5 separate regions of the Homo sapiens genome follow, and regions 2, 3, 4 and 5 are each linked to region 1. The links come from fine-mapping of genetic effects on gene expression. A gene starts in region 1. Each other region holds a variant in brackets. All regions are shown on one strand. Distances are between the middles of the regions.

Evidence for each region. PIP is the estimated chance that this variant, and not a neighbour inherited with it, causes the effect.
Region 2: its variant is fine-mapped to the expression of SMAD3 in whole blood (TOPMed, PIP 0.97).
Region 3: its variant is fine-mapped to the expression of SMAD3 in whole blood (TOPMed, PIP above 0.99).
Region 4: its variant is fine-mapped to the expression of SMAD3 in neutrophils (BLUEPRINT, PIP 0.95).
Region 5: its variant is fine-mapped to the expression of SMAD3 in fibroblasts (GTEx, PIP above 0.99).

Annotation. Positions count from the first base shown.
Region 1 is chr15:67,062,585-67,067,584 of GRCh38, reverse strand. It overlaps SMAD3 (SMAD family member 3), which reads right to left and starts at 1,983. Exons shown (of 9, transcript NM_005902.4): 1 at 1,225-1,983. The coding sequence starts at 1,430. SMAD3-DT (SMAD3 divergent transcript) reads left to right here and starts at 3,403. Exons shown (of 6, transcript NR_135686.1): 1 at 3,403-4,469. RefSeq lists silencers at 767-856, 877-936, 1,187-1,236, 1,387-1,546, 1,717-2,206, enhancers at 657-1,425, 2,965-3,735, 4,893-5,000 and a cis regulatory region at 4,959-4,972.
Region 2 is chr15:67,095,559-67,100,766 of GRCh38, reverse strand. The region is part of intron 1 of SMAD3 (SMAD family member 3); the gene reads right to left. Among named protein-coding and RNA genes, the nearest start is that of SMAD3, 33 kb to the right of the region's middle. RefSeq lists enhancers at 2,033-2,534, 3,748-3,797. The variant G/A (reference allele first, on the strand shown) is at 2,135.
Region 3 is chr15:67,119,190-67,124,189 of GRCh38, reverse strand. The region is part of intron 1 of SMAD3 (SMAD family member 3); the gene reads right to left. Among named protein-coding and RNA genes, the nearest start is that of SMAD3-AS1, 25 kb to the left of the region's middle. RefSeq lists enhancers at 2,816-3,255, 3,234-4,091. The variant C/T (reference allele first, on the strand shown) is at 2,904.
Region 4 is chr15:67,174,675-67,179,746 of GRCh38, reverse strand. All of the region lies in intron 5 of SMAD3 (SMAD family member 3), which reads right to left. Among named protein-coding and RNA genes, the nearest start is that of SMAD3-AS1, 30 kb to the right of the region's middle. RefSeq lists an enhancer at 3,645-3,694. The variant A/G (reference allele first, on the strand shown) is at 1,951.
Region 5 is chr15:67,106,980-67,112,187 of GRCh38, reverse strand. All of the region lies in intron 1 of SMAD3 (SMAD family member 3), which reads right to left. Among named protein-coding and RNA genes, the nearest start is that of SMAD3-AS1, 37 kb to the left of the region's middle. RefSeq lists a silencer at 5,003-5,208 and an enhancer at 4,200-5,208. The variant C/T (reference allele first, on the strand shown) is at 2,549.

The DNA.
Region 1 (5,000 bases):
CAAGCAGGTGGCCAAGGATGGAGTCCACCCTGGCCCAGGAGCAGGGATGACAATCCCTTTGCGGCTGACAGTCCCTGGTGCTTTCTACTCATTCCTCGGCAGCCTGGGACCCCCAAAAGAGCCAGCCCCCAACACACACGCTCTCTCCCTTGGTTCAGCATCAAAGGAGGCTGAGAGGTAGAGACAGGAAGCCAAGGTACCCGCACCCCCAGTTCCCAGCCAGGCACATCTAAGCTAAGGAAGGCCCTGGGGGAGTGAAGTCACTGACCCCTTCTATCAGCCATCTGTGGGCTCCCGCCCGACCTAGCTAGCGCGCAACGGGAAGGATAAAGGAGATCCAGACAGATGGCAGCGCGCTTTGGGAAGGAAGGCTCTACAGGAATGCGAGGGCCGATGCGAGGCCCACTTTGGGGTGTGTTTTGTTATCTGCCCGGCTGCAGCCTGCCCCTCTCCCTCGTTCTGCACGGTTTCAAAATCTCTTGGACCAAAAGAAGGGCAAAAGAGTCGGGATGGGGGGGTGGGAGGTGGGAGAAGACCCTATTTTCCGCCACTTGTCTCTCCCATTTGGAAGTCAGAGCATTGCACTGCAACCAAAGTGCGTGCATGCTCAGGGGGCGGGAGACTGGCACAACCGAGTCTAAAAATACTCGATAAAAATGCTAATCCCGAAGGCAAAGAAAGAACGAAGAAGGAATCTGTCAATCACTAGGCTCCCGCTCCTCACCCACAGCCCCAGCTGTACGGACCGCATTCCTGTAGAGGAAAGTGGGGAGACCCGACTGAAGAAAAGAAACGCAAAGACACCACCACCTCCACGAGCGCGGGCCGCGGGGGCGGGAGGCGGCGGCGGAGGAGGGGCTCCGGCCCGCGGAGCCGAACAAAGCGGGCCTCAACTTCCAGCCCCAGCTCCCCGGAGTGGGGGCGGCCGAGTCCCGCAGCAACCCGCTCTCCCCTCCCGGAGGTGGAAAGGGAATGTGAGGTGTGGAAGCCAGAGTGCCGCGTGGAAGCCTCGGGCTCTGATCTTTGCAAATCAGAGATGGTTTTGTTTGGGGTCCCCCCACCCCCTTCCTGCCCGCGCTCTCCCACTCTCACACACACGCACCCACACAGTCTCACTCCCTCCCTCTCTCTCCCTCTTCCCATCTCCAGCCCCACTGGGTCGGCCCCGCAGTGCCAGGGGGCTGGGCCGGCGTGACCCCGGGTCCCCCCCGGGCGGGCCCCCACCTGGGGATGGTGATGCACTTGGTGTTGACGTTCTGCGTGGTGATGGCCTTCTCCAGCTCGTCCAGCTGCCCCGTCTTCTTGAGTTTCTTGACCAGGCTCTTGACCGCCTTCTCGCACCATTTCTCCTCCTGCCCGTTCTGCTCGCCCTTCTTCCAGCCCAGCAGGCGCTTCACGATCGGGGGAGTGAAAGGCAGGATGGACGACATGGCTGGGGAGGGCGCGCGGGCGGCGAGGAGCGCCCCCGGCGGGGCTGGGCTCGACGGGACGCCGGGGGCGCAGAGGGGAGCTCGGCCGGGGCCTGCCGCGGTCGCCCAAACTTCGCCTCAACTCTCGGCGAAGTTGCCGGGGCGCCGGGCCGGGCCGCGGCGCTGCAGCCTGCGGGGCTCGGCGCGCGGCCCTGCGCCCGGAGCGGCTCCCACGGCGAAGAGAAGAGCGGCCGGGCGGGCGGACGGCAGCAGTGCAGGGTCGGGAAGGCCCCGAACGCGGGGCGGAGGCGGCGGCCGCGAGACTCCAAGTGGCAGCAGAAGTTTGGGTTTCCGCACGGGGTAGCTGTTTGGGTGCCGCCTCCGGGAAGGAAAGTCCAACCCCCGGCCAAACTTCGCTCGCCTCGCTAGCTTTGATGCGCAGATCCCTCCGCCTCTGCGGCCTCACCGCCCCGCCACCCTCCTCCTCCCGGCTCGCCGCTCGCTCGCTCGCTGGCTGGGCCGGCCCGGGGCGTGCGCCGCGCTCCCGCTCCCGCCCGCTCCCAGTCTGTGTTTCATGCAAATCCGCGTGCAGCCTCCTTTCCAAGTGCTGTCACCGCCCCCTCGCCGCCGGGGCTCCCCGCCTCCTCCCCCGCGCCCCGCCACCTCCTCCCGCGGGCGCCCTGCCCGCCCCCTGCTCCGGGGAGGGCGCCCGGCCGGCCACCACCCCGCGCCCAGCACGCCCACGTGGGCGACCCGGGCGGCGGCAGTCCTGGCTGGAGCGCGCGGGACCCTGCGCGGCCCCGACCTGAAGTCGGGCGGGCGCGGGGAGGAAGTCCTGGGAAACACGGCGAGAGGGGCCTCGGGCGGGAGGGCTGAGCGCGGCCCGTGGCGTCCGCTCTCGGAGTCCACACTCGGGCGGCTCGGTTGGAGTTGCGGGCCGGAGAGGGTTGGACTCGCAGCAAGTAAGCGTCGTCCGGACGCGAGTGCACCCTGGAGAGGACCCGAGCCCGAGAGGGGGCGCGCGGAAGGCCCGGGCCCAGGAAGTTGGGGCCCGCACTTGGCCTCGCGCTTGCTGATCCCCGTCAAGGCCCTTGGCCGGCGCCGGCGCCCCTGGGCTGTTTTTATTCTCTAGTCGGTGAGATCACACCGGCCGAGAGCCTCGGGAACGTGTGCGGAGGAGGAGGGGGTGAGAAGTGGGTCCTCAGAAGTGGAGAGCTGGGGACACCAGTGACAACCTGGACAATGGCTGGAGCCAGGGGTCTCTTGAGCCTTGTGAACCGAGTGCCCGGCAGAAAATGAGCCTCAAGGACATCTGTTGAGTTCTTGAAGGAATGAATGGAGGGGCTTTCGAATTTATCTTTGAAAGAAATTTACATAACAGGGTGTTTGTTGCTGGATCTCCTGATAGAGAAGGATCGGAAATTTGATAATTGCCAATAAATGGAAGAGAGTTTTGTTTCCAAAGCAATGAACTCACAAAAAAGTGGGGCAAGACAGGAGTTTTCGGAGAGTTTGTGTATTCAAAAAAAGCAAAACAACAACAAACCAATTGGCACATTGGGGAGCTCCGCGGCTTTTCTCCCCACCAAAAGAATTCAGGGGCGTCTGCCCGCAGGGCCCTCGGCGGTTTTCAGGAGCTACTCCAGGCCCCTCGGCCTTTCTCTTGCTGCCTCCCGCAGCCGACTAGCCGGTGTCTAAGCCCTTTGTTTGTTTTTAACAGCAGGAATCTCCCACCCCCACCCCTGCTTTGTTAAAAAAAAAAAGTTATCTGGAACCCTCAAGTGGGTGGGGAGTTACAAAGCCCTGTGAGGTGTGGCGGAATCCACAGTCAGCCCAGAAGCGGCAGGGGCCCTTGCCTTGCTCCGGAGAACCGCCTCCCACAAGCCAATCCGCAGCTGCTGCTGCAGAAGTGCGCTGTGCTCCTCACCCTCCTCTCTTCCTAAATACCCGCCTGAAAAGGAGAATACGTGAAAGCCAACTGAGGCTTGACAACCTGGCTTCCGTTCCTTGCTGGTCCTCCTGTTAACGCGCTGCCGCTGTGGTCTTAGGTTTCACTCTCCTCTTCCCGTCCGTCAAGAGAGACAAGGATGACACAATCCACATTTATTGATTGCTTTCTTCATTCCGGGTAGTCCGCCTGCTGCCCTTTGATTCAGTCTTAACAGTGGTTGGTGAGGTAGATGTTCCTGTGCCTCACGTTTACGGAGGCACAGAGAGATTACATTACTTACTCAGGGTTCCAAGTGGCAGAGCTGGAATTTGAACCCAATACTTTGTTGAAGCCTCAGTCTCCGATCTTGAGACTGCACCCAGCTGCCTGGGTCACGGAAGGCAAAGATGACATCATTGATCGAGCTCTTTGCAAAACAGTTCTCTACACGGGCACACTGTTGTAACACTGCAAGGATTATTTGCTCACCTGTAAAATGGGGCTAGAGGTAGCTTCCCTCGCGATCTCCTAGGGTGGCTGTGGGAAGCTCATGTGAAAAGGTTTGCATTGCTAATGCCATGAAAAGTGGTGGAGGGAGGTCAAATAAGTTTAACACACATTGACGGAGCAGCTCTGAGTTGCAGCCCTCCTATTCAGTTCCTGAACTTCCAAAATAAAAGACTAAGGTTTTCAAGGCGTTCACAGCCTAGAGAAGCATCAAAGGGTGGGGATGAGGATGATGTGACTGAGTGGGCAAAGATGGGCAGGGGCCTTGCAGTCATCATCGTCCAGTAAAGTGTTAATCTTAACCTGAACAAGTCCAACCATTGAGAGGTAGCCAAAGAAAGTAAGAGGGGCTCAGGATCCATCAGTGACTGGCCTGGCTTCCAATCCCGGCTCTTTCTCTTCTTCCCCTTGGGCAGCGTCCGTTCTCTCCGCTGTAAGAATGGAGCAAGCGGTTCTCACTGTGCAGAGTGGTGGATCCAGAAAGAGCATTGTAACTGTCCTCCTGTAGTTCAAGTCCTTTATGTTACAGAGAGAGCAATGTCTGCTGAAGGAGAGTGATTTGCACTGTAGAGGAAGAGCGTCAGAGAGATTTGAGGATTACATGTAGTAGAAGGACCTGACAGGTACTTCACCCTGTAAAATCATGGTATGGGAAGGGGCCCTCATTCAGCCCTCTCATTTTCCTGAGGGGAGGAAATAACTAGGCAGCCAGCTAGTTAGTGTGGCAGAACCATGCTTCCCTGCTGGCATCCGTGTGACAAGAACAGCTGTGCATGCAGAAAAATAGTGCTGGACCCACCTACAAGTCTAATAAGTGCCATTTCTGGGCTAGTTCTTTCTCCTCAGGCCTGTTTCTCCAAGAGAAGTCCCTCCACTGGGGGACTAAGTCCAGTTTCAGAAAGCTCTGAGGAGGGCTGAGGAACTGATTCTTCCAGTGCTGAGAAGACCCTGCATGTTCTCTTGATCTTGACTTTGGGCAGTGAATGGGTGGGCTGCTCTGGATGGGTACAACTCTGTTCTGGCACCTGGTCTTTTGGGGCCCAGCCATACCTGCTTTTGCAGAGGTTGTCCTTGGGAGGGAAACATTAGCCCAGTTAATTTTTCACCATGGTAAGTGCAAAGTTCAGGAGAGGTGGGATGGAAGTGGAGACAGC
Region 2 (5,208 bases), 33 kb before region 1:
TCTTCTGCCTCAGTGTACACGTAAATGTCCCATTCCTTTCTTTCCTACCCAATACAAACCTATCAGAAACTAAGTCAGTGACATGGACACCATTAGAGGAATACATTTGATTTTAATATATATTAAAATCAATTTATATGTTTATCACAATATATTGATATATTTATCACAATATATCACAGTATATCACAATATATTAATATTGTAATTAATACATTTATTAATACATTAATATATTAATACATGCAGCAAAAATCTACCATGTTAGCCATTTTAATGTGTATAATTTGGTGGCATTGAGTTCATTCACAATATTGTACAACCACCGCAACTATTTTGTTCCAGAACATCCCTCAAGGAAACCCTGTATCCATGAAGCAGTCACTCCCCATTCCCCTCTCCTCCATCCCTGGCAACTACTAATCTGCTTTCTGTCTCTGTGAATTTGCCTATGGGGATACTGCATGGGAATGGAATCATGTGATATGTGGCTTTTGATGTCTGAATTCTTCAACTCAGCACAATGTTTTCAAGATTCACCCATGTTGTGGCACATACTTCATTCCTTTTTTTTTTTTTTTTTTTTAGATGGAGTTTCGCTCTTGTTGCCCAGGCTGGAGTGCAAGGGTGCGATCTCGGCTCACTGCAACCTCTGCCTCCTGGGTTCAAGCAATTCTCCTGCCTCAGCCTCCCAAGTAGCTGGGATTACAGGCATGTGGCACCATGCCCGGCTAATTTTGTATTTTTAGTAGAGATGGGGTTTCACCATGTTGGTCAGGATGGTCTTGAACTCCTGACCTCAAATGACCCACCCACCTTGGTCTCCCAAAGTGCTGGGATTACAGGCGCAAGCCACTGCGCCCGGCCACGTACTTCATTTCTTGGCTCAAAAAATATTCCATTGTAGAGTGGAATATGCTTTTGAATTAATTGCTAAGTAAATCATTCACAGACTGTAGTACTATTATTAGCAACAATTAAATAAGATAATCTATGTAAGGTATGGGGCACGTGGTGTGCAATCAGTTAGCATTCACTTTTCATCATCAACAAAAATTCCTCATAGCACACCTCGCTGGTGGTGGTGTCATCACACCTTACTTGGGAATCAATAGGCTGGAGGTGTCATCCAGATCCCATCTTCTGAGTACATGAATCAAAACATTTCTGCACAAGTATTACATATTCCCCCAGTTCTCCAATGTATGCGGACCTCTGGCGAGTAAACCTTCCTTATGCAGTAACCATTATAAGCTAGCAAAACACTGGAACCCTTCTTCAAGTAATCTTGCCACATGAAATTTACCAAAACAGAAAATCCTTGGGGAGGTGGTGTAATTCTCCATTTTTCAAAATGACTTACAACAGGATTCCTTTAAATGGTTTTCCCAGTAGTCTTAAAACACAATTCAATTTGCATAATCAACATTTCAACAACACACCTTCTCTATAAAATACTATGCAGCTGTCTGAGCTGGGCTCCAACTTTGGAGGACAGTGATGCTTACAAGACATGAGGAATTGATGTCTGCTTTTCCCCATAATCAGCATGCTGAATCCAGAGACAGAAGTCCTTAGTCCTTATCCCACTTTCCAGCCCTGTGACTGTGAACAAGAGCGGCTACTTCTTCTCATGTCAGTGTATTCCCAGGAATGCAGAAGTCACAGCCACTTTCTCTAAGGCTGACACATGAATCAACAGGGCGGCAACCACAGAAAGGAGAATTATCATGGGTACTCACAGAGTTGATCCTCGCTCAGGACATACGCTCTGTCCACAGTTTGGGGCAAAAGTCCACATTTGTGAAGCATTTCAGAACACTGTCCCATCTCCATGGGCTGCCTGACCCTCCTCCACACTGGCCCCCTCAGGAACGGAGTCCACCCTCCCATCCATGTATGCCCTCCCACCGTCCCCAAATCCCCCAGCTGAGCAACAGTGGGCCCTCAGACCCCCGCTGGGGATGCGTAGGACCCTCCATGCCCACTTCCACCTGCCTTCCGGGGGCTGTGGAGGCCTCCACAACCAAAGCAAGCCTCCCCAAGTGTCCTGTGGACAGTTCTCTCCCAACTCCCGAAGCTTGTTTTCTTTAATTAGCTCACTGTGGCAGGAGAAAAACGCGGCCCCACCCTC[G/A]AAATAAGCAGATCTGGGCCTCAAATGTACTCTGTGGTTTGCCTCTGTGCTGCCAAGCTGTTCGCCAGGGAGTGACAGGCTACCGGGGCTGAGGAGGCAGGGGCAGTAAGAAACCCCTGCTATGTTGAGATAGGCCTTTTTCTTCCTAACATCTGACATTCATTTCTCAACCACAAGCTGGGCTGCACCCTTTCCTGAGTCCCTGAAACCTGCGATTGTGGTTCCAATTAGGGGACGATTCCAAATCCTGCTGGCTTGCTTGCTTGCTTGCTCGCTCGCTCTCTCCCTCCCTCCCTCCCTCCCTCCCTCCTTCCTTCTTTTTTAATCTGTCTTGGGTGGTGGGGTGGGGGGGCAGTTTAGGCACAAAGCCCAATCCTCTCATCTCACAGATGATGAACTGAGGCCCAAACAAAGTAACTGCTTCTTGGAGTCTCTCAGGACAGTAGTGAGCAGCACTTAAAGAAACACTGAAGACTCACCGTGTTAGCTCTTCCTAACACCAGTACTTAAGTTTATAAACGATTTCTCCATATGTCATCTCAGCTGGGTCTCATCCTCTAAGGCAGGCACACCCACGAATGCTCCATTTGACAGATGCGTAAACCAAGGCTTAGTAGGGAATGGACAGTCAAAGGTCATGTGACTAAGAGTGACAGTGTGAGAGGACCAGGATCCTTGAAGACCTTCAAACACTACAATTTTTCTTTCATTCCAGTAACTTCTAGAGCACAGCCTGAAGAACTACTTAGAAGTCTGAGGCAGAGGCTCCCTAGAATCGTACTCACAGAATCTTGGAAGTTAGACCTTGAAGGCCAGGATTCCTAGAGGATACTACTTTTGGTCCTAGCACCCACAGGAATTGTTTCTTCCTCCTCCCCTCATTCTTCACCATCATGACCATTGCTAGCATTGATTCAGTCCCATGGACCAGACACAATGATTACTCCTCCCCCTGCTCTCATTTCACGCTCATGACCATGCTATAAGATAATTACCATTATACCCATTTTATAGATGGGTAAACCAAGGCTCCAGGAGGCTTGAACAACCTGCCCAACATCAAACAACTAGTTAAGAGATGGAGATAAGGCCGGGCGCAGTGGCTCACACCTGTAATCCCGGCACTTTGGGAGGCTGAGGCAGGCAGATAGCCTGAGCTCACAAGTTTGAGACTAGCCTGGGGCAACATAGTGAAACTCTGTTTCTACAAAAAACAACAACAAAAAACAACAACAAAAAAAACATGAAAATTAGCCCAGCATAGAGATGTGTGCCTGTAGTCCCAAGCTACTCAGGAGGCTGAGGTGGGAAGATCGCTTGAGCTGGGAGGTCAAGGCTGCAGTGTGCCAATATCATACCACTGCCTTCCAGCCTGAGTGGTGGAGGAAGAACCTGTCCCCTACAAAAACAAAAAACAAACAAACAAAAAAAACCACAAAAAAAGGACAGAGAGATGGAGATAAGATTTGACCCAAGAATTCAGCCTCCAAGTACCCACATTTTTAACAACTACACTGCAACCAAAAGACTGAGGACTGCCTGATGAAGAAATGACTCACCCAAGGAGACCATGCCTGAGTTAAGAGTCAAACTAGGGCCTCTCTCTCAGCTTACTGCTGGATCACCTCTATACTAGGCTGCCCAAAAATTCACAAAAGTAAATGCTCAGGAGACCCCCAAAGCACCTTCAACAAGAGTATGTTTGTAGCCTCTGAAATTCCTCAACTTTTTATCTCTATCAACAGAGCCACCACCACCTGGAAGCTTGGAATCTTCAGAGCAAGCACACATGCTCACTTGCCTATATGATGCTTCTTAGCTCCGCAACCCAGGAGACAATGTGAGCAGACCAGGGATCTAGAGGCTGCACGTGCAAGACCAGCCTGAGACCTCCAGCCCCAGGATGCCAGTCAGGGTTGGCTGCATAATTTGTGGGGCCCAGTGCAAAATGAAAATATGGAACCCTTTGTGCAAAAGGCAAAAAAAAAAAAAGTATCAATCATGGTACTAAAATAGAAAGCTTTTTCTCTTTCCTCCACAGTCTCTCTCTTGATGTGTCATGGTATTTTTAATTTGCTATTTAATATTATTCTAAGTAAAGCAACATTAAAATTTTAAATTACATGAATTAGCATGAATTTTACCACTCCTATTTATATTGTGTGATGCCAGTTTTAACTGCAAATATAAAAAGCCTTTAACTAGTATGTGGAATCACCAACATTACATGAATTGTATTTTAGGACTTGGATGTGCATTTTGTGATGTACCAGAACCAGAGAAACATCCATAAAGCTAACTCAATCGTTTTTACTTCACTTCTCGCTATGTGTCCATTCTACCTCACTCTTTATGCTGCCTGAGGAGTAAGGAAGATCTGAAAGGAAAAGGCAATATGGGTGCCCTATCTTTCCTTTCCCTTCTTCCGTCATCATTTTCAATATAAGTGGTTGGTGTCAGGGAAGTGACGTGAGTAATAAAGGATATGATGGGGTTCTTTGGTCGTTGATGTTTCTTAGAATGTCATCGCCTTCTTTCTACAACCAAGACAAGTTCCAGTTAGATGGAAAGCATCAGGACTGTCAGGGCCCCTGCTACTCAGTCGCAGATGTGACATCTCACACTCACTTTGACTCTCACTCAACTCCCCCACATTGTAGGTCCGGCAGAAGTCTGTGCTCAAATGCTACATGTGAATGGGGCAGAAGGCTCAATGGGCACATGCTGCCCACATCTCCTCTATCCATGCTCATGCTCCAAAACACTAGGTCAAAGAGAAAATTATTAAGAATTTCAAGATGGGCCGGATGCAGTGGTTTACACCTGTAATCCCAGCACTTTGGGAGCCCAAGGCTGGATCACCTGAGGTCAGGAGTTCGAGACCAGCCTCGCCAACATGGTGAAACCCCACGTCTACTAAAAGAAATACAAAAATTAGCTGGGTGTGGTGGCAGGTGCCTGTAATCCCAGCTACTCGGGAGGCTGAAGCAGGAGAATCACTTGAACCCGCAGGCAGAGGTTACAGAGAGCCGATATTGAGCCATTGCACTCCAGCTTGGGCAACAATAACAAAA
Region 3 (5,000 bases), 57 kb before region 1:
TAGCAAGACCTCTTCTCAACAGAAAAATACAAAAATTAGCCAGACGTGGTGGCCTGCTTCTGTAGTCCCAGCTAATCAGGAGGTCAAGGCTAGAGGATCATTTGAGCCCAGGAGTTTGAGGCTGCAGTAAGCTATCATTGCACCACGGCACTCCAGCCTGGGTGACAGAGGGAGACTCTGTCTAAAAATAAGAGACGAAAATCCAAAGGAACAAAAGCTTCTAAATAAAATCGACAACAACCTATTTTCCAGTGATTTGTTTCAGTCTATTCTACAGCATATCCGAAAGTTGGAAAGCAGGACACACTATTTTCCCTTTGTTTCCAGGCTTTTTGGATACTCTGGGATGTTTTATTATAGCTTTTCAGGTTAGCAGTTGAACCCACTGCTTTAAATGTAGAGGTCCTTCACCTAAAAAGAAGGCAAAGGGTTGCAGAAAAACATTGAGTATATTCTTTGGAAATGTCAAAAAAAGACTATTTCAAAATAAGTTTGTCCGTCTCCCAATTTTGGGGCATCCCGTCTATCTGAGTGCCTCCTATGTACTGGATTCTATACTGTAAAATTAGAATGCTGGCTGAAGGTGATGATAAGCTCATAATATTAATGGCTACTATTTACTAACACTTGTAATATGCTAGGAATTGCAGTCAATCTCAAACATGTTAGAATTCTTTTTTCCTTTTTTTTGAGACGGAGTTTTGCTCTTGTTGCCCAAGCTGGAGTGCGATGGCACAATCTTGGCTCACTGCAAACTCCTCCTCCTGGGTTCAAGCGATTCTCCTGCCTTAGCCTCCCGAGTAGCTGGGATTACGGGCGTGTGCCACCACACCTGACTAATTTTTTGTATTTTCAGTAGAAACGGAATTTCACCATGTTTTAGCTAGGCTGGTCTCAAACTCCTGACCTCAGGTGATCCACCCGCCTCGGCCTCCCAAAGTGCTGGGATTACAGGTGTGAGCCACTGCGCCTGGCTGATTTTTTTTTTTTTTTTTTTTTTTGAGACAGGGTCTCACTCTGTTGCCCAGGCTAGAGTACAGTGGCGAGTTCACTGCAGACTTTAACTCCTGGCTCAAGCAACCTTACACTGCAGCCTCCCGAGTAGCTGAGACCACAGGCTCACACCACCATGCCCAGCTAATATTTTTAATTTTTTGTAGAGATGAGATCTTGTTATGTTCTTGTTATGCTGGCCAGTCTGGTCTCAAACTTCTGGCCTCAAGCGATCCTCCCACCTCAGCCTCCCAAAGTACTGGGATTACAGGCATGAGCCACCATGCCCGGACGCAAGTATTTAAAACAAATTCACTGAGATATTTTATCCCTGTTTTACAGATGAAGAAACTGAGGACTTAGAATGTTTAAGTCCTTGTCTGAAGTCCCATAACTTACAAGTGGTGGGGCCAGGATTTGAACCCTGGTCTGTAGGATCCCAAAGCCCTATTCCTTACCACCCTACATAGGGACCACAGGGAACATCATTGCTCTGTGAAAAAAACCTATCCTTGTCTATGGAGTGATTACTTTCCTAAGAAAGTCAGGTAAGTCCTGGCTTGAAAACAAGTTTAAGAGCCAGCTCAGCTCTTAGCTAGATGCAAGACCCTCAGCATCCCCTCACCTCTCTGGACCTCAGTATTTTGGGCAATGAAACTAGTATATCATTTCCTGTGACCTCTTTTGGCTCTAACAAATGGCCAAAAAACCCAAGAGATCACCAGCTCCATAAATCCCCCGATAGGAAATGGGCCAAAGGATTACCGTACGGAAAGCAGTCCTGACTTGCTCATTCCCAAACTCTGGTGAGGAAACCAAGAGAAACCAGCCACCACCCACAGCTGACAGGGTCTGGGGGGAACAGCAAAAGAGCTGACCCGCACAGTACCCCCAGGCTAACTGAAGAGTCCCTGAAGCCTACAGATCAATTTCTCTTTTCTAAGAAGGAAAGGGGAGTATAACCTTCAGTTTCCTCATGTGTAAAATGAAAAGGTTTCATCTGTTCATTCTTCTAAGTGGTCAACTTAACCTCTGTAGGACTCAGCTTCCTCATCTACAAAATGGGGACATATGTCCGGACCTTAGACCAGTGCTACCCAATAGAATTTTTGGTGGTGATGAAAACGTGCTGCTCTATATGAGCTGATCTGATGGCCACTAGCCTACCCGTGCACTTGAAATGCGGCTGGTGTGACTGAGGGACAGCATTTGTAATTGTATTTAATTTTAATGACCCAACATTTAAATAGCCACATGAGGGTGGTGGATAGGTATCGGACAATATAGCCTTAGACTGTAGTGGCAGGAATGAAATCAGATGGCATTTGTAAACTGCCTAGCACAGTGGTGGGACACAAAGTTCTGGAGGAAAAACATGCATGAATATGCAGAGGTCCTATCAGTAGAGATTTTTTTTTAAGCAAAATTTCCTCATATCAAGAAATGGAGGCACTAGAAGCTGACAAGCACATACATGGATGTGTTAGAAAGACCCAGAGAAATCAGGCATACTGTAGAAACCATTCTCTCGGTGTATAGACTAAATGGCTGAAGGTCTGTTTTGTTTTCTTCACAAATGTTCTTGTCAGAAGATAAAAGAGAGCCGTTTTCAGCAAATCTAGGTTTTTATAACCCTAAACGCCCAGTACAAACTGCCCCAAGAGCAAGCTCTCTCTTCAACAAAACCTCCCGTCCTCCCAGGCAGCCACCCCCCGCCCATCTGCAGCCCTCCCCGGGGCCTCTGGGAGCTGCCCACCCAGAACGGAGTGCAACTGACATGTGGGGCACACCCTGCCAGGCACAGTCACTCGTGGGGGGAGAGCCACCCACGATGCCCTCAGGACCCACAAGGCCGGCTGGCAGTGGCCTGTGTCAGGAGTGCCCACCGGCACCCGCTGGCAGCCAGCCTG[C/T]GTCACAGCCCAACAGGAAACGAGGAGAAGAGAACACTGGGGCCGCGTGGAAATCCCCACTGGGCTCCACGCCGGAGGGTGACTCAGCGGGGCTGGCCAGCAAGCTGCCTCCCACCCCTCAGCCAGGACAGGGCGGGGGCTGCAGGAAACAGGCCTCCCGCCTCTCTGCAAAGGCTAAGAAGTACACATTCTTACATATTATTATGTTACAGATACAATCATGCCCTGCCTGAAAACATGCAAGACAAAGTCCCAACATATGAGATGGGGATTCAAGGTCCTTTTATAACAGAAAACGCACTTTCTCTAAGCAGGGGTGTCCGGTGTTTTGGCTTCCCTGGGCCACGATGGAAGAGTCGTCATCTTGGGCCACACATAAAATACGCTAACTAACGATAGCTGATGAGCTAAAAAATAATCGCAAAAAAAAAATCTTACAATGTTTTCAGAAAGTTTATGAATTTGTGTTGGGCTGCATTCAAAGCTCTCCTGGGCTACATGCGGCCCACGGGCCAGAGGGTGGACAAGCTTGCTCTAAAGGAAAGTCTTAGTTCAAGTCCTGGAGCAGCCATGAAGCTTGAAAAATTCCCTTCCCAATTTCCCAGGCCCAATTTCTTACCTGGTAGGGCCAGGGTGAGATTCCCACACTCTCCACGGAGTGTTCCCAGGCAACACCATTGCACAGTGCCTCTGCCCTCCTCGCAGCTAGCCCATCTGCCCTTCTAGACCACCCCACAGCACTTAGCAGTCTTAGATTATGGCGTTCATCATCCTAAACACAGACATTTTACCAGGCCTCCCACTCAGATACTGTCACCAGGACAGAGGCCATGCCTTACATCTCCAAAGTGAGTTTGATACATACAGGGGGTTTTAAAAATTATCCATCTATTGATCCAAAGAAACAGCATGGCATGTGTATAAGACTTGTTATCCTTGATACCCCTCCCCAACTCCAGGTCATGGCAGGGCTGCCTGAGCTGCCACAGGCTCTTATCACCTCTGTTCCCCACATCACGTTAAGCAGCCCAGGGCAAAGTCTGTCCCACACTGTTCCTCTTTTTCCCATAAAGTACCCAGTGTACTCCAGGGACTTACGGCTAGCAAAAGAAACAACAAGCAAGAAAGTGGGGAGGTCCTAGAAATCCACTCCTAGTGAGTTGCAAGAGGCTTACTAAACCCAGAGTCTTGGCCAGGGACAGTGGCTCACGCCTTTAATCCCAGCACTTTGGGAGGCCAAGGTGGGCAGATCGCTTGAGCTCAGGAGTTTGAGACCAGCCTGGGCAACACGGTGAAACCCCACCTCCACAAAATATACAAAAAATAGCCAGGCGTGGTAGCGTGTGCCTATAATCCCAGCTACCTGAGGGGCTGAGGCAGGAGGATTGCTTGAGCCTGGGAGGTCAAGGCTGCAGTGAGCTGTGATCGCACCACTGCACTCCAGCTTGGGTGACAAAGCGAGACTCTGTCTCCAAAAAAAAAATTCAAAGTCTTTACCCCTTGAAGTTACTAGAAAAATCCAACCTATGTTATTTCACTTTAAAAATATCAACTTGCTATGACTTTTTCCTTTCAGAAGCTCTCTTGGGCAATTCTACCTTTGGACTATAAGCTTCTTACAAAATAATTCATTTTTCCCATTCCCGAGTGTGTGCGGGTCTGAATTTTATGAATGTCTTTGGCAAGTCTGAGATAATTCAGCCAGGGTTCCATCCATCTGCTTCATAGACAGTTCCACTCACTTGGCCTCTGAAAGCACTCCATGCGCTCCCCACCCACGGTCAGCCCTTACCCAGGTCCCTCTCTGGCTCCCACTCTGTGGCACCCCCACCCCCGCCATGGCCCCAGCACAGCTGTGTGGCAAGAATAACCCAGCTCTCTGTGTCTACTGCCCACCTCCCATTGACTATGGGCCTCCCTGCAATGGGCTTCAGCCCCAACACTCCATCATGACTGCCCTTGCTAAGGTCACCTAGTGGCCTCCAGGTTACAGAATCTAAAACACATGGTTTTCAGGCCTTACCATTCTGGGTTCTCTGCAACATCTAGCACTGCTGCTCCTTTCCTCTTGCTGCAGGGTCTCGTCACTCACCTTCA
Region 4 (5,072 bases), 110 kb before region 1:
GGAGGATCCCTGCTCATCAGACCTTCTGAAGGTGTGTAAAGCCCAAGAGAGAAAAGTCAGAAGCTGTTCTGCCCACTGGAAGGGGTCTGGTTGCCCCTGCAGGACAGAGTGTCCCAATCCCCTTTTGGAGTCTAGGTGCATGATCCTTTCTAAGAGCAAGGAGAACACTATCACGAATGGCGAAGGGGCAGGCCAGTAACACCCCTGCACTCCACACACACCCAGGAAGTGTCAGCTGGAGGATTAGGACACCCTAGGTCAGGTTTTTCAACTTCAGCACTACTGACATCTGGGGCCAGATAATTCTTTGTTGGGTGGGTGGATGGGTGGGAGGGAGGATCTGCAGATTGCAGGATGTTTAGCAGCATCCTGGCCCCTACCCACTAGGTGCTAGTAGTATACATCCATAACACCCTCTCAAGTTGTGGCAATAAAAAAAGGCTGCGGATATTGCCAGATGTCTTCTAGGGGGCAAAACGGCCTCCAGTTGAAAACCATTGCCCTAGATATTTAACTGGATCATGGGGCACAAGCTATAAAGCCATCCTCCAGACAGACTGGAGGTCAATCTTGGCTCAGGCACAGACTAGACATGCAACTGCGAGCAAACCAGCTACACTCTGTGGGCCTCATCCTCTTTACTCTCGGCGCTGTTTCTGGACAGACAGAGATAACTCATGTGAGGTGCAGGGCGCGCATCAAACACTCAGCACATGGTGTTAACAACAATGATAATAGCCCGATTCTGTGAACTTGAAAATAGCCTGGTCCTATCTTGATCACCATCAAGATGGAGAGGCAAAGCATTCTTGTCGTTTTCTCTCTTCCTGGGGTGGAGCAAAGGAAGATAAGGATGAAGGCATCAAAAGTACTTAATGGGGAAGGGAGGAATGACAGGGCCAGGAGCAGCTGCGGCTTGTGCCCTGGCCCCTGAGGTGAGGCTGAGCCACGTCAGCCACGTCTGGCTCTGGCTTTGCTTGATGCTTCAACATTCCAATGAGATAAGCTATATTCTAAACAATGTGGTCACTAAAATGTGAGCTATGTTGATTTGGAAACTTAAAAAAAAAAAATCCAAGTGCAACCCAAGCATTCAGAGTGGTCAAGCAATGTATCAGTGCTGCTGGCCACCACTGCCCAAGCGCAGGCTCTGCTGATCCTGCTGTGTGACCTTGGGGACATGACCTCCTTCTGTAACCTCAGTTTTGTAGTCCGTACAATCACTGTGGTACACTAGAAGACAATAAAGCTACAATAAAGCTGACCACCTAGATCATTCTCTGGCACGGGTCAGCTTGAACATATAGCTTTGACTGGCCCTGACTTACTCAGCAATGTGTAGAACAGAACAGGGTCCTCACCCCAAAATCATAAAGCCCTGCCCAGCATTCTCTGGGTTTAGTCCAGGCAGAAGAGAAAGAGCTAGGCTCCCAGGAACGGCAACCCAGCCCACCATTCAAAAAAAGAAAAAGCTGGCAGGCCACCCATTGTGTCGCATGGTGCTAGAACCATGCTCTGGGGAAGGGTGGGCTTCAAGGACCCTCAGAATCAAAGACAGGCCTGGGGTCATAGGCCGAGAGGCCCTCCCAAGCAGATCTGAGCCCTTATCCAAACAGCCCTGCAACTCACAGACACACACCGGACAGTGTTGTGGAAAACCCCGGACACTAGGAACCTGACACATCATTAAGAAGATGCTTGTTTGAGGGAGCAGTGAAATCAGGCCAGTGGCAAAGTCTGCAGGCTGCCATTTCAGAGAGTGCTGTTTGGACAAGCTGCCCTGTGTTCAGAAGCGGGACTGAGCCAGAGCAGCACCCCAGCCATGCGCTTTCTATTCTCTGCAAACAACTAAAAGCCAGCCGTGATTTCCCTCCTTTCTAGGTCCCTCCCGCCCACCATGCCTCAGCTGCTTCCTCCCAGAACTTGTGCAAGAGGAGTGGCAGACCAGAA[A/G]GTATGGTCACCACCTGTGGGTTCTGCCTTCAATGGCACATTTTTCCTTAACAAAAAAAAAAACAAAAAAACAGACCATATGCAGTGGTTCATACCTGTAATCCCAAGCACTTTGGGAGGCCAAGGCAGGCAGATCACTTGAGGTCAGGATTTCGAGACCAGCCTGGCCAACCTGGCGAAACCCCGTCTCTACTAAAAATACAAAAATTAGCTGGGTGTGGTGACGGGTGCCTGTAATCCCAGCTACTCTGGAGGCTGAGGCAGGAGAATCACTTGAACCCAGGAGGCAGAGGTTGCAGTGAGCCAAGATCACGCCACTGCACTCCAGCCTGGGGGATAGAGCAAGACTCTGCCACACACCAAAAAAAAAAAAACCCAAAACACTAAATATGCCCTCATTTCTTTCCCAAAGTACTTATCCTTACCCTGGTTAGTACCAGAGAAACAAAAAGGACTCTGGAAAGAAGGCGGCTATAAATGGGATAACCATGAGGTTATAGTTACTGCAAAAGCATCCAGTTTGGCTCTGAGCTTCCTAGTAGACAAGACAAAAAGGGAACATGACATGGTCTATGGCTCTGGTTGGTGGATGGGCAATGCTTACTAGTTCCTCAGGGAAAACAAAGTTTGTCCTGGCATTAAATCTTAAAAGAAATCTCTCAGGGGGAGGTGGCAACCCCTCCCCTGACCAATCAATCAACTGATCAAGCAAGCAAGCAAATTAAGATCTGGTTTCAAGGATTTACCAACAAATGCAGAAGCAGTTCTATAGAAGGCTCCTCTAGGAGAATGACTACGGGGGGTAAGGTGACACACCCCATTGAAGAGCAGTTTCACCTCTAGGCTGAGCATTTTGCACAGCTGGGGTGGTAGACGATGGCACGTGCCCACGGCCTTCCCTTCAAACAGCCCTGCTCCTGGCCAGATTTCTGAGTCTGTGCTAATCTCTCCTCCCAGTGCAGAGGTGTTGGAGACGCAGGAACCTCCAGCTCCAGCCTTTGTGGATCCCCCTCCCCCACCAGTGTGGTGTCGGCCAGACTTCTCAAGTGCCATAGGGCACTTAATCCATGGCTGGCCCCCTGCCAGCCTAACGCATTGGCTGGCCTCAGTTTTCAGTCCTGTTCCAAGCTGGCACAGACGTTCCATTATGTTTAAGAAAAAGAAAACAGAATAAAACCCAGAAGGCAACACTTGGATTAAGGGATGCCTATTAAAAACATGTGCAAGAGATTCAAATCCCGTAAAGGAAGAGGTGGGGAGGCAAGGGGGGAAATTAACTTTCTCCTATAAATCGAAAGCAAGGAACGGGCAAAGGCCAGGAGCACTGCTGCTGCAAGACGAAAGGTCAAAACAGAAATGGGCTGGTTTCTGCTGGGCCCACCTCACCTGCGGAAGGCAGCTCTTCCTCAATCTAGGAGATTCCACACTCCAGTTCCCATGTTCCTCATCCACCACTTCTCAGTCCTGCCTGGGTCCTCTGCCTGGACTGCCCATCCCCCTCCTCTGCAGGGACTCGATCTTTAAGGCCCAGCTCACACGGCTGTGAAACACTCCCTCACTGCCTCAGTGCAGAATTAACCTTGTGTCCCAGAAACTGTGTACCTGAGTCTCCTATGCTAGAGGATGAGGTCTCTGTGAGCCCACGCCAGCTGTGTCCCAGCACCCAGGGTACTAATTCCAACCTATGTATCTGCGGACTAAAATACCAAACCAAGCTGCACAGAGACCCCCATGCCCTTTTAGCTTATGACCAGCATACTGCAACCAGGAACAGTGGCAAAGTCTAAAAACCGGGCCCTCAGGAGTATGAAGACAGAGCCGACAGCTGACTTCCTGTCATTATGTTGCCTGCCTGTGATTTCACAAGTGTGGGGAAGACCCTGCCTGTGATTTCACAAGTGTGGGGAAGACCGGAGCCAGAGGCTGCATTGTAAAAGAGCCTTGGGCAGCAGCATGAAGATGCCTGGAACTGGGTTGGGCCTCTGCCCTGGGCCGCCGTCCACACTCAGGGCTGGTGGTCTTCGGGCCGCCCTGCCACCACACCTGTGCTCACACATGGGCACAGGGGCTCATGAAGCAGAGGGGAAGCCGGGCCTGTCAGCGTGGAGTCTCACCCAGAATCCTAACCCTGACTCACGGGGCAACTTGCCCCCGATTCACACCTTCCCAGCAGAGGTGCAACTAGGCCAGTGCAAAGTGGCACCCTGGGGGGAGGGTCCTCCCTTTGGAAGAAATAACCTAAGAATTCTCAACTCTCAGGCAAGGTGCCTGAGGAAGCGTCAGTAGGGAGGGAGAACTATGTCAACAGGAGATGCTGCCTTGGGTCCAAGCTCAAGAAACATCCCATCATCCTAGTCTACACAATCTAGAGGGCAATTCACAGCAAACGACCACCTTTCAGTCTGAAGCACTGCATCCGGCATCAGCCACCTCCAAGCTGCCCTATCCCTCTCACTCCAAGCTGCCCCATCCCTGCCTCTCACTCCTGCCACTGGCACTCTGGAAGCCATCACCTCCTTTAACTCCAGCTCAACTGCTCCCTCAGGGCTCTCCCTGGTACATTATTTTCCTCAGTCATGGCTCCGCCCTAATCATCTCACTTTAAAGCAGGGAACAACTTACTCACCAGGCAGAAGCCAGCTCACTACCTTTTTCCTCTCTCCACCTGCCTCCTCCTTCCCCTCCATTTACCCCAATCCTTCCGCCTTAAATGCCTAGGAAATTCCCGGTGACTCACCCAGCACGCTGTGTAATAACAGGAACATCACCTGCTCATATCTCCTGCCCTGCAAACAACGGTCCCAGGTCCCAGGGTCTCCGAGAGCCTGCCTGGGGCAGGATGCTGAGCCAGGTCTCAACCAGGAGTCCCTGCCCCTTACCAGAAGTGGCTTTGCTGGGGCAAGGAGGCTCAACCTTCCCCAGACCTGAGCCCTGGGGCTAACACCTGGAGTGGGGAGGAAATGAAAGGAGAAACCAGATGTCCTCTGCTTTCTTTCTTTTTGTACAGTAATTTCATAATAATCTCTTTAAAGGAAATAATCAGATGTCCTGAGATGTCCCCATTTTTTCCTAGGAAGAGCTCCCTGTGTGCTTGCCTCCATCCTAGGGTTTGGGACGCACTG
Region 5 (5,208 bases), 44 kb before region 1:
ACAAGAGCAAAACTCTGTCTCAAAAAAAAAAAAGGAAAGAAAAAAAAAGAAATGGCTAAAGGATTTGTAGATGTTCCTCCAAACAAGATATACAAATGGAAGGCCAGGTGCGGTGGCTATGCCCGTAATCCCAACACTTTGGGAGGCTGAGGCAGGTGGATCATCTGAGGTCAGGAGTTCAAGACCAACCTGGCCATCATGGTGAAACCCTGTCTCTACTAAAAATACAAAAATTAGCCAGGTGTGGTGGCACACACCCGTAATCCCAGTGACTCAGGAGGCTGAGGCAGGAGAATCACTTGAACCCAGGAAGCAGAGGCTGCAGTGAGCCGAGATGGCACCATTGCACTCCAGCCTGGACATCCCAGCAAGACTCAATCTCAAAAACAAACAAACAAAAAACACAAATGCCAAAAAGCACAAGGAGAGATGATCAATATCATTAGCCAATAGGGAAATGCAAATCAAAACTATAATGAGATACCACCTCACATCCACTAGAATGGCTAAAATAAAACAGACAATAACAAGTGTTGACAAGGATGGGGAGAACTGGAACCCTCATACATTGGTGGTGAGACTGTAAAATGGTACAACCACACAACCACTTTGGAAAACAATTTGGCAGTTTCTCAAAAAGGTAAACAAAGCTACCAAATGACCCCATAATTCTACTTCTAGGTATCTACTCAAGATAAATGAAAACACATTTCCACAAAAAAAGCTTGTACACAAATATTCGTAGCAGCATTATTTACAATAGCCAAGAAGTGAAAACAACCCAAATGTCTATCAACTGAAGAAAGGACAAACAAAATGTGGTATATCCATACACTGGAATACTATTTGGCCATAAAAAGGAATGAAGTACTGACACATGCTACAAATGGATGAACCCTGAAAATATGTTAAGTGAAAGAAGTCAAACACAAAAGTCCACAAATTGTATGATTTCATCTACATGAAATGTCCAAAAGAGGCAAATCCAGAGAACCAGAAAGTAGACTAAGTTGCCAGGGCTAAGGGGGATGGGCAGGAAGTGACTGTTAATGGGTATGAGGTTTCTTTTTGTGGTGTTGAAAATGTTCTAAAATTAGATAGTGATGATGGTTGTACAACTCCATTAATACACTAAAAACCACTAAATCATATCCCTTAAAAGAGCAGATTTATGGTGTATGAATTATATGCCAATAAAGCTATTATTTTTCAAAAGGTTTACTGAATAAAGTCTGGACTTGTGTTACTAGTAATGTACCAATGTTGTTTCTGAGTTTTGACATGTGTACCATGGTAATACAAGATGTTAACATTACGGACATCTGGGTCAGGGGTACACTGGAACTTTCTGTATTATCTGTGTACAGTTTTTCTGTGTATCTACGATTATTCCAAAAGGAAGAATTTCTTTAAAGAAAAGATTGGTCATACAGAGCTAACTATTATGTAATGATTTAACTAGGCTTCCATGACTGTGGTGTACCTGCCCACTGGACCATAGCTGCTCAACGGCAGGAGGCCCACTTTGCAACCAGGGTAGCCCACACAGGGCTGGATGTCACAGACACAGAGAGGCAGAACAAGTAACAATGAGCATTTGCATCTGCACGGCAAGGAACGCTCCTCTTCCCTCTTGTATCTTCTTCAAGCCTCACAACAACACTATGAAGTCAATACTGTCACGTAGGGGGAGGGACTACCAAGGTGCTGTCAGCATCCTATCCCCCATCACTCCCAACTCTGTTTATATACATACACTTCTATTTTGTCAAACCCAAGTTCCTCTAAATCCAAATCTTCTGACATATCCCGCTACAGGCTGGGGTCATGGGAAAACTAGGTGGGCAGTTCCTGGCCTTTCCTCCACCAGCAGAGGTGGTGATTCTCCCTCGAATGTTCCAAGAGTCACTGCATCTATATGCCTTGATTTGAGCCACAGATGTCTGTGAGTTTGAGTCGTATCCCCCAAGCAGCACAGAACTCCAAGGGTACAGCCAGTATCCTAATTATTCCTAAACCCCCTGGGTCTTAGACACTCAAGCACAGAATGAATTATTTCATTCACTGACGACCTAGAGGTGTTCAGCAAGCACAGTCACCCTATCCCTAAAGGAAACCTGCTGGTTTCAGGCAGAGAACTCCTAAAAGGCAAACATTCTTCTTGGTCATCTCTTGCCTGCGTGGACATCACTAATGGGCTGGGGTTCTATTTTCTGAGAAGCACTGAGTTGGTTTCCCCCGCTGACGAGCCTGGGAGCTATGGCTTCATGTTATCTGGAGACCCGGGTGGGTGGGAAGTGGGCCGTGGAGGAGGAGCGGGCTGGCACGCTCCACCAGGCTGATGGCAGCCCCTGCTTCCTGTGGGGCCCATGGCCCACTGACATCACTGAGAGGCCGGCGGAGCGTAAGGGGCACGCGGGTGTCGCAACTGCAGGCAGCACGCGGGGTCATGTGAAGTTCAGCTCTGGGGTTTTCTCAGTCCATTGGGTTTTACTCATCCCTTGTCCATTAAGTGTGTTTCCCCCTCTCGCTTTTCCTTCTTTGTGTG[C/T]GTGTGTGTTTTAATTATTCCATGGCTCTTGGCTTGCTTTCATAACCTCACATTAACATTTCTCATTGCTACTGAGAAACAAGGCATTCCACCCACTAGAATGCAAAGACACCAGAGAGAATTCCAGCTCTGTGCAGGAACCCCTGGGGAGAGGGTCAGTATCCAATCACCAAAGAGGAGGATGTAAGACTTACATGCAGCATGGGGTACTAGCCTCTCAGGCCACGAGGTCCACTCTGACCTTCTACCCATTTTACAGATGAGGGCCACAAGTCCCAGAGGGTTAAAGTGACTTGCACAAGGTCACCCAGCTTCAATCAGGGCAAAATGACTCAATTTTTCAAAACTGCTATCACAAAGCATTTTTCAGTGCATGGCAAGCATTCCACACAAAAAGCATTTGCACACACAAAGAACTTACAATGAAAATTATGTCTTACAAGTTAACAAGCCATGAGAATGTTCTAATCATCAAGCATTAAAAATACCCAAATGCATATTCATCCCATGCATTCTTCGACAAGTATTTGTGAAGTGACCATGCTTTATCAGGCACCGTGCTAGGTGCTAGACTCCAGAGACACGAAGACGAATAATAACTGGTCTTCGTCAACAAGAACTCAATTGTGAGACAAAAGCCAACTTGAGGAAAATTAAGCCTATTTCAAACATGCCTTGATCTGTGTAACATTCATAATACATAATATCTTCTTTGATCTCCACAGTTTTCTCTCTACCTCCAGATCAGTGCAATCTCTGGTTTTCCACTTTTTTTTTTCTTTCCAAATGAAAATAGAGCACAACTGTCATTTTCAATCTACTAAGTCATAAACCACAAGGCAGGCTGCAAGGACCAAATGCTCCGTTTTAGAACGAGCCCAGTGCAGAGAACAGAGTCCACACCACAAGGCAGGGAGCTGTGGTCCAGATGAGTGACATGCCCTTAGTGACCTGGGTCCTGGCCTCCGACCCAGAGACCAGTCCCATGGAGCCCCTGTCCTTGAGGGCTCACTGCCTGGGACTGTGAGAAGAATAACCCAGAAACCAATGATTTCAACATATCGTGGTGTGTGTCAGACCTAGGCATGCTCAGCAGCTGGGGGGACACATTTGCAGTGGCCAGGAGGAGGGGGCATCTGAAGGCTGCTTCCTGGAGATCAAGATGGGACTACGTTTTGGAGGAAGTAAGTTGAATAGGCTTGGGACATTCCAGGCTGGTATGGGCAAAGCAAGGAGGCAAGAAATGGCTTGGCACAGGGTGGGGAGGCAAGCAGGCTTCTAGTATCATCAGAGTGGGGATTCTCAACCTTTTTGGGCAAAGCATGGTCATTTTCAATTCCAGTGATTTTCACAGACCTCTCCCATGGTGGCAGTTGTACTTGAAATCAGTCACTCCACAAATGCGTAATCCCTGCCCATTTACAGCAATAATACAACCGCACAGAGTCTGCAGCTGCCAGGTTGGAAAGCTTCTTACCGGAGCCCCCGAGGGCAAGGCCAAGTGAGAGGAGATGGAGGACGCTGTGCAGACCCCAAGGGACAAGGCGAGTTATCCCCGAAGCACTAGGAACCACTGGACGGAAGGGTTCTAACCAGGGAGGTGCTGAAGCAAGATCTGTCCTTTAGAAAGATCACCCTGGGCACAGCGCGGGAGGTGGTGGGGGGGTGGGGGGGAGAGGAGAGCAGATCCAGGGAGGCTGCTCGGGGAGATGACCTGGAGGCCCAGTCACCTAGGTGAGGGAGGATGACTTTCCACACCAGATGTCAGTATCACAGAAGCCTCAAGCCTCAGATAATCCTCCCTTCCAAAACCTAAAACAAACCCAAAATTCCCCACTCAATTTCAACAATAGTCAAAATCAAATGGCTCCTCCTCTATCAGGCCATATCCCTATGGAAGGGAAGGGTGAGGCTTTGGGGTGGGTGAGGGCAACAGTATGGGGCAGGGAAGGGAAGTGGAGGGACAGAGGGAGGCCCTGTCCATGCAATAACCACAGCGACAGGCAGTGACTTAGGCTGGGCAAACCAAGTGACCGTGGCAAGGCTCAGAGAGGCGGGAAGGGCCGGGGGAAGCCCCTCTCCCATCAGAAATTACTCGCAGCCGAATGACGGACTTCATCTGTCTCTGCCTGCAGGTGACCACAGACTGCATCAGGAGGGCAGGAGGGCAGGAGGGCATGGCAACAAGGCTCTCCCCTTGTCTGGCACCCCAGAAAGCAGAGCTGAGAAATCTCACCCTGGGAAGAAGGGTGGGGTGCTTATGTGGTGGGAGTGGCGCAGCAGGTGGGAAGATTTCGAGGCTCTGAAAGGCCCACTCCCCTCCACCCAGATAAAGCTACTTCTCTCTTGGTTTCCTTGGGGCTATCACAGTCACTGTGCCTGAAATTCCCACCATTTGTCATTCCTTTGGCATCCAAGGCCCAATGACTGACTACACTAAAATCTTCAGTTAAAGCATGACTCATTAAAATCTTTTTTTTTTTTTTAATGCACTCAGTAAACATTTATTGAGGGCTTGACTGTTCCAGGTACTGTGCTGAGCCCTGGGTGGGAGAGAGGGTGATGACTAAGGCTTGGGAAGTCAGGGCTAGGGAAGCCGACAGAAGCCAAGTCGTGCAGACGGGGCCCTGTGAACTCAGCTAAGGAGACTGGACTCCACT